Linked DNA regions of Homo sapiens: region 1 is linked to region 2. Evidence: fine-mapped expression QTL. A gene starts in region 2. The other region holds a variant in brackets. All regions are shown on one strand. Distances are between the middles of the regions. Region 1 has its middle 41 kb from the start of TOB1-AS1. Region 2 holds the start of TOB1 (transducer of ERBB2, 1).

Evidence for each region. PIP is the estimated chance that this variant, and not a neighbour inherited with it, causes the effect. A credible set is the group of variants that fine-mapping cannot tell apart.
Region 1: its variant is the best candidate, but not a certain one, in a credible set for the expression of TOB1 in whole blood (INTERVAL, PIP 0.77).

The regions. Positions count from the first base shown.
Region 1 is chr17:50,905,089-50,909,590 of GRCh38, reverse strand. No RefSeq gene overlaps it. Among named protein-coding and RNA genes, the nearest start is that of TOB1-AS1, 41 kb to the right of the region's middle. RefSeq lists a silencer at 29-323 and an enhancer at 1-760. The variant A/G (reference allele first, on the strand shown) is at 2,036.
Region 2 is chr17:50,864,768-50,868,767 of GRCh38, reverse strand. It overlaps TOB1 (transducer of ERBB2, 1), which reads left to right and starts at 2,414. Exons shown (of 2, transcript NM_005749.4): 1 at 2,414-2,710. It overlaps TOB1-AS1 (TOB1 antisense RNA 1), which reads right to left and starts at 2,089. Exons shown (of 2, transcript NR_038458.1): 1 at 1,551-2,089; 2 at 397-1,272. RefSeq lists silencers at 2,079-2,588, 2,599-3,208 and an enhancer at 3,749-3,798.

The DNA of each region.
Region 1 (4,502 bases), 41 kb before region 2:
AGCCAGCAGGAGGTAACCCCTGGTGGAAAGGGAACAGAGAAGCTGCAAACACTGTCCAAAACAAACTTCTGCCACCTTACCACGTTGCCCTGGGCCTGCCCTATTTGCCGTCACCAGCAGAGGACAAAGAAAGGTTATGTGCAAAGGTACTTTGTGTTCCCGCGGCAGGGGGCCAGCGGGGAACTCTCGTCACCTGGTTGTGCTAGGGATTCCAGGGCATGCTCTAAACCACAGAGGAGGGCGGCCTCTGAATGGGGCCACGACAAAACAGGCCTGGGTGAAGCTGCTATTCGTCTGCTATGAGACCTGGAGGGGACTCAGTCCTCCAGCCTTGGATCACAGGACTCCCCAAGGCTACAAGGGCCATTGGGGGTGTCAGAGTCCTGGGACCCTGACCAGCTTCCCAGCCAGCCTCCAGGAGCGCCGTCATCCCTGCTGCAGAGAGAACACAGAGATTAAGAGTTATAGGCTTGGCTGGGCCAGATGCTATGGCTCACACATGTAATCCCAGTACTTTGGGAGGCAGAGGCAGGCAGATCACCTGAGGTCAGGAGTTTGAGACCAGCCTGGCCAACATGGTGAAGCTCCGTCTCTACTAAAATTATAAAAATTAGCCGGGCATGGTGGCACATACCTGTAGTCCAGCTGCTTGGGAAGCTGAGGCAGGAGAATCGCTTGAACTCAGGAGGCGGAGGTTGAAGTGAACAGAGATCATGCCACTGCACTCCAGCCTGGGCAACACAGCAAGACTCCGTCTTTAAAACAAAAACAAAAACAAAGAGTCACAGGCTTTAGAATCAGCCGCACTTGGGGTCAAGTTTCAACTCTGCCTCCTTCCAGCAGTGGGACCCAGGGCAAGCAATCAATTTCCTTTGAGCCTGAGTTTCCTCATCTGTGAAATGGGGCTAATCGTTGGGACTGTTTTGAAGACGCATGTCTTCTGACTCGTACACTGAGCACAGTGGCTGACTCAACTGTCAATGCCAGACATGCATAATGACAATATAAATGTAATGATAATTCCTTCCAGAAATACCTGTCGAGCACCTGTGACAGGCCAGGCACTGTGCAGGGTGCTCTTGAAGATATGAAGGTGAGTAAGACAAGTCCCACCCTGTCTGGAGGACATGCCCAAGAATGATTCTAACCAAACCTGAGAATGCTGAGTGATGGGAGGGAAGGCATGCAGAGGAGGTCAGCATAGGCATTCAGGGAAGCCTTCCTGGAGGAGGCAGCACTTGAGCTGGGCCTGGGCGGGTGGCTAGGACTGTGGATGTGGGGAGGAGAGGAAGGACATGCCTACATGAGGAAGGAAGTAGAGTGAAAGAGCTGTTCAAGTTTAGGGCACACAGAAGCTCCATGTGGCTGGAGTACAGTGCCCAGTGAGGACATGGGGGGTGGACAGCATGCCAGGTGGGACAGAGCGTCACTGTCCCCCAAATACACCATCTCCCTCTGCCTTGCTGGGTGACCTTGAGCTGGGTACTCTGTGTCTCTGAGTCTCATATCTCTCATTTGTGAAATTAAAGGTCTGGAGTGATTAGTGGTTCACCACCTTTCCCCCAAGAACTTTAGTTACTCCCTGTTTTTCTCCCCATTGTCTCGCATACATGTTGTGTCCTTGCATGAAGTCACTGAAGGTTTTGATCAAGGCTACGGATGATCAATCACAGGTGATGTGAAAAAGCCCCCTGGCTCCAGTGTGGTGATGGGTGGGAAGATGGGAGGCCCCCACCATGAGCCATGAGGGCCCTGGTGAGGACTGGGCTGAGGGAGGTGAAGGAGAAAACACCATTAGGAACTGGAGCTCTGGCCTAGAAGTCCTGACAGGGGCTGAGGGGAGTTAAGGGTCAGAAGGCAGAGCCTGGGTGATTGACGGTCAGATGTATAGGTTGGGGTTTCAGCCAGAGGGGCATCCCTCCCATCCCCAGAGGGAGAACAATGGGTTGGTTTAAACAAATTGAATTTGAGGCACCTCTAAGACATCATGGTAGACTGTCCAGTAGGGAATGGATTTTTTTTTCTTTTTTGAGAC[A/G]GAGTCTCGCCCCAGGTTAGAGTGCAGTGGTGCAATCTCGGCTCACTGCAACCTCCGCCTCCCGGGTTCAAGTGATTCTCCTGCCTCAGCCTCCTGACTAACTGGGACTACAGGCGCATGCCACCATGCCCAGCTAATTTTTTTGTATTTTGTTTTTGTTTTTTAGTAGAGTTTTTTTTTTTTTTTTTTTTTTTAGTAGAGACAGGGTTTCACCACGTTGGCCAGGATGGTCTTGATCTCTTGACCTCATGGTCCACCCGCCTCAGCCTCCCAAAGCGCAGGGATAACAGGCGTGAGCCACTGTGCCCAGCCTTTTTTTTTTTTTTTTTGTTTTTTGAGACAGAGTCTCACTCTGTTGCCCAGGCTGGAGTGCAGTGGCGCAATCTTGGCTCACTGCAGCCTCTGCCTCCCAGGTTCCAGCTATTCTCCTGCCTCAGCCTCCCCAGTAGCTGGGATTACAGGTGCCTGCCACCATGCCTGGCTAATTTTTGTATTTTTAGTAGAGACGGGGTTTCACCATGTTGACCAGGCTGGTCTCAAACTCCTGGCCTCAGGTGATCCTCCTGCCTCGGCCTCCCAAAGTGCTGGGATTGCAGGTGTGAGCCACTGTGCCCCCCTGAACTCTTAACCAGTCTTTCTCATCCCTTGGAGAAATCCTAAAGTGCTCACAGAGGTGGTCCCTTCCCATTTCCACTGGCAGTAGCTCTGAATTCTGGTGTTCATTGTGGGCTGGGCGGGCAGAGGCAGAAGGGTTTGTGATGGGAGCAGGGTTTTCTGCCCCGGTCCTGCTGGCCCTTCTCTATTCTGTACTGGTCTTTGATGGGGGCCAGGCATTGGTAGGTGGGACTGATGATGGGCCTAATGATTGACTAGTGTATTCGCCAATGGAACACACGTGGGCCTCCTAACCCAGCAATACAAGGGGTCTGGAAGATCACCTGTTCCTGGCTCCCCACACCCCACCCCAGATCAGAAAAGAGCAGGGAGAAAGAGACCTGTTGCTGTTTTTTATCTTTATAAAATCCTAACAGAAAATAGAATATTTATCTGTGAGAAGGGTACACTGGCTTAACTAAAATGTCAAGTTTCATTGCTGGAATTATGAGGGACATGATAAATGTACATTTATTCAGTAATTACTCATTCAGGATTCTGTTTTGTATGAAACAAAACCAGGACATGCTGCTCAGAAGCTCTGATTAGTTTTGCTTCATACAAAATCAGCTCCTGGCCGGGCATGGTGGCTCATGCCTGTAATCCCAGCACTTTGGGAGGCCGAGGTAGGCAGATCACGAGGTCAGGAGTTTGAGACCAGCCTGGCCAACATGGGAAAACCCCATCTTTACTAAAAATACAAAAATTAGCCGGGCGTAGTGGCAGGTGCCTGTAATCCCAGCTACTTGGGAGGCTGAGGCAGGAGAATTGCTTGAACCTGGGAGGCAGAGGTGAGCCAAGATCGAGCCACTGCACTCCAGCCTGGGGGACAAGAGCGAGACTGTCTGGAAAAAAAAAATCAGCTCCTGAATTAATAATTATTGGATGAGTGTTACTTGATAGCCCTACATTTTAAGAACAGAGAGACAGAGAGAGAGAAAGAGTTTGTGAGTGTGTGTGTGTGTGGCGGGGGAAGAGGTACAGAGCTGAGGTAATAAAAAGGTAAAATGCTCTCATTTTACCAATGAGAAAACAGAAGTGTAGCGGGTAAGTGACCAGCTCAAGGTCACACAATGAGGCAAGGTCACACAGCAGGGAGGGCCAGACCCCAGACCCCAAACCTGGGCCCTCCCTGGTGCTCTTTGCTGCTATGGTTTTTGGGGGTGGAGTGTGTGAGGGAAGCTGAAGAGTTAACAATGAATTCTGTACCTTCAGGCCATGGCCAACAGCTGCCTGGGAGATAAGGGGAGGCGACCCCTGGGAACAAACAGCCTGTGGATTGGAGAGATTGAGCAAGGCTGGAAAAACAGGTGCAGGTGGCAACAGGGAAGGGGGTGGGGCAGGAGACAGAGCCAGAGGGAGCAGAGGAGGTTCCAGGGCTCCTGGGACCCCAGAGGGTCCCTGTTGCCAGAAGGCACTGGCTGGGCCAGAGTCCAGGGTGAGCAGAATCAGGTCCCAGGCTTCACCCTCTGCAAGCTTCTCTATGACCCCACAGGGGGTTAACTGGGCCTTGAATTGCAGAACCAGAAGGGGCTGAAGGGAGCACCCAGGCCTCAGCTGGCTCTGGTCTGAGACTCAGGTCAGAGGCAGAGGTGATGGCCACACCTGGGAGGCTGGGTTGCCCTTGGACAAAGCAGCGGCCGCAGCTGTTTAGGTTCTGCCACCCTCTCCCCTCCTCTGTCCCCAAAGGCTATCCAGCCCCCGCAGCAGTCAGTCCTTGGGTTTCACAGGCCCTGCCCTGGAGAGCTTTTCTTTAGAACCAGCCCCATCAGAAATCCCTCCCCCAGAGAATCACTGGGAGCTTAGGCTGCTG
Region 2 (4,000 bases):
TTAATGCTACTGATATTTAATCAGTACCTATCAGATGACTGCTCTCATATTTCAAATCTGGAATTACAGATTGAAGACATTCAGAAAAGAGAACTTGTCCCTTCTCTTTAGAGAATTATTGAAAAGTACAGATAAGTTTGACAAAATTACAATTCATCTATCTTTAGACATTTTAGTCTCAGCCATGCCTAATATGCCCCCCCAATATAAAATTACTAATCAAGACACATGGTCCCGCAGTTCTAGATGTTTGGTACAGTACCATTATTTGCCTAATGGTAAAAGAAGTTGTGCTTCTAGAACACGTGAAAAATGAAGTGTTTCTTTTGGTAAGGCATTCCAAGGATATCCTGTCTAGTTTCTTGAAATTTCTGTGCTTAATTAGAAAACTAAAAATAACTCACTTTTATTACAGATGGACTTGTCATTACAGAAAACCAAAAACAAACAAATAAAAAAAGAAAACTGAACAAATCATTTATATTTGACGCTTTGATGACATTTCAATGCAGAGGAAGGGACATTTTAATTTAAATGCTTTCACAGTTTTGCCATACTTTCACATTTCAATTCCACTCCTGTTTGCAACTAAAAAACCCAAACACTCAAAAAAAAAAAAAAATCACATTAATCAGAATTTAAGGAGTCACTTAGTAAAACTATGTTTTAGGAATCTGTACAATAAACATGAAATCAGTCACCTGACCACTCCCCACCCTCAGCCCATTCCACAAACCCATCTTCCCACCCCTTCTCCTACGCATTGAGCCTTCAGAAATACCCTTTCTCAGTGCGGTTCCTTCTAAAAAGGAGAGGCGGGAGAGTCAGGGTGGAGAAGGCGGCTCCAACCAGATTTTGCGTCCACAAAGCCAAAAGCTTCTAGGCCTGGCATGTACGGCGGGTTTGTGCCCGAGGAGCACAGCTGGTCTACACGGGCCCGCCCCGTAGACACCCTACTCCTCGGTGAGCTGCGGTTTAACTTCCTTATAGCAGGTTGAGAGTGCAGGCCCCAACGTTTGGAGGGGAAGGCGGCGCCCCAACTGGTGTTTTTCCAGGAAGTGCTCCAAGAATGGAGAGGAGAGGGGAAAGGGGAAAGGGGAAGGCCAGGCGATGGGCGTTTCATTCATTGCTTCTTTCTCCCCGTCCCCTCCTTCGCTCCCCCCAGACTTTCCCCTTTTCCCAGTCCGAGTTTGACGTCGGTCTCCTGGATACCAGGCAGCCAATCGCCTCGTTGCGAAGGGACCAGCGCAGCCAATCAGGCGTCGTTGCTACCTGTGAGTAATATTTTTAGCTGAGAGGGACGCTCGATTCCACTCCCGATGTAATTTCGTGTATTTCTCTGGGGCAGGTTGTGAAAAAGGCACTTACCCGCCCCCCACCACGAGTCCCTCTCTTACCCCACTCCCTAGGTACCCGCACATATTTCAGCCAAGAATGATCTTAAACGCGCTTTACAAGCAGGCACCGCGTTTATTCTGTGCACCTGCGATCCAGCAAGCCCTAGAAATGCACGCATGCGTGTGTGTGTAGACATGGACACAGATACATACGCAGTTTGGCCTCGTGTCGCCACACTCTGGGCACGGCGTGGGCTGGGACATTTGGAATAAACGGATCCGAGTCGCAGCCGGGGTCGCACCGGGAGGCCTGAGGCTGCGGAAGCAGTTAAACTGCCGGCGGGGCGGGAGCTGTGGCGGCCTCCCTTCCCCACCCCCAGCCCGGCTCCACGTCTTTGGGTTCTGCAGCTGCCACTCTCTGGGTGGCGGTTGGCCTAGGCCTTGGGGTGATTAATATTCAATTAATCGGGTGCACAAGTCCCGGTCACAGTTTGCCCTTTCTCTACCCCGCCCCTGGGGTGGGCTGGAGGCCGATTTGGTAGCTATTCCACGAGCAGGATCCTCCTTGGCCGCAGACCCCCGCGGAGAGGGCACTTTCTGGGTACTCTTGCCGCTCCTCCAGCCCCGGTTCTCCTGAGCCGCTTCGCCACCAGCTTCGTCCCCCTCCCCCTCTGCCCGGCGCTCTCCGCCTAAACCGGGCGTCAGCCGCCCTACCCCACCCCTTTCTCTCTCATTGGCACGTCTGCCCCCACAGTCCCTTTCCAGACGTTCTCTTCATTCCGTCCCCAGTGCTCCGATCGTCGGTTCATTGGCCCTCCTGGAGCCCGGAGGGTGCGGCTTCCCCACCCCTGCGTCCGCCGCGCGTCCGGACAGGGGCAGGCGGGACTTGGCCAATGGCGTCGGGGGGCAGGGCAGGGGCGGAGCCGGCCGGCGGGGGACCGGGGTGCCGGGCGGGGAGCGCGGGGAATGGCTGCGCCGCCGGAGCTGTGTGACGCGGAGCGGGCGCGCGCACCCCGACGGAGGGGATGGGGGCGGGGAGGAGGCCATAAAACGAGAGGCGGGGCGCGCGCCGCGGCAGAAGGAGCGAAGCTCTGGCCCGGCGTGTAGCGGGCGCACTACGGGGACGCTGGGCCGGGCACCGGGCTGTGTGGAGAAGTGAGCGCGCTCGTCTGACCCCCGTGCCCGCCACCCCGAGCCACTAACGGCGATCTCCCAAGGCCTGCCCGAGGCCTCTGTCCTCTGTCCTCAGCCCCGCAGCGGCAACGTCTTGCACTCGGCGAGCTCGCCGCTCCCGACCCTCCCGCGCCCCCGCCCTGCCGCGCTGCTCCCCGCCCAGCCGCGGGTCTGTGGTCCAAGCCGCCCCGAAGCAGCCCGTAAGTATCTCGGGGCGCCGGGCGGGGTCGGCGAGGAGACGGGAGCCCCGGGCCCAGGCGGCGGAGGAGGGGCTGCAGCGGCGTCGAGCCCTGGGCCCTCGGGAGCTCGGGGACGGCGGGGTCGCGGCCCTGGGCGCCGAGGGGGCAGCGCCAGGACCCGAGGGGAGCGGCTCCGAGGGGCCGCCGGCGCGTCGGGCTCGTCCTGGGCAGTTGGCCGGGGACGGGCGGCCCGGGGCGAGCTGACGGGAATTGGGGGGTTGGGGTGCCCGGAGGAGCGACGAGCTCGCGGTGGAACGCTGGGGTTCGAGGGGCCGGTGGCCGCGAGGCTGAAAATGGTGCCGAGGAACCGGTGCTCCCCCAGGCTCTGGCCGGCTCCCAGGAGCCCGGGGCGGGGGCCACGGGGCGGGGAGCAGCGGGTCGGGTTACGGCGGGGGAGGGGAGCGGCTGACCCGGCGCCCCGACCTGCTCGGTGCTGGGTGCCCAGCCGGGAGAGGTTGCTCTTCCATTTCCCGGGCCTTCCTCCTCCTTCTCCGAGGAGGCTCGTACTCTCTTCCTCCTCCACCTCCACCTCCTCTTGCTGTTGCTGCTGCTGTAGCGCTTGGGCTCCGAGGGCTGTGAGCAGAAATCTAATGAGATCTAACTGGCTGTTTATGTAATTCTTCACACTCCTGCCTGTCTTAAGGCGTTGCTTTGTAACTACCTTCCACCGAGCCTGAATTTCGCTCGGCTGCACCTTCAAGCAATTGGGCTTAATCAGCTGCCTCTGCCGGCACTCAGGCTTTTGACTTGGAAAGTGTTTGTAGTTTGGGGGCAGCCAGAGATTCTTTTTCCCTTTGTCACCACGAATATGGAAAATAGAACAGACGAATTAAGACCAACTTGATTTTTAAACGTACTTTTAAATCAACTTCAGTGTGCAAATAGATCCCTTTCGCAAATATCTTCTGTTTGCCCTTGATCTTTTCTTATCCCCACCCAGTGCTGATCCAGCAAACGTTTAAAGGTCGACCTTACCATACTTGCCTCTCCGGCTGTTACCGTGAGAGGGAGGGAGGGAGAGAGGGACAGACGGAGGTTTTTTAAAATCAGACTAAAACTCAGAAACCCTGGCCTTAAACAGAATAATCAATAGTTTTAATTTGTGTCTTTGCTTTTGTTATACTTGCTGCCGAATAGGTATTTTCAGATTTAGAAAAATACACATTGAAAACAAAAGGCCCAGAGAAGCTGGATTTTATTATATTGTATGCTCTTAGTATACTTAAGGCCGAAACTATATAGAATAATTTG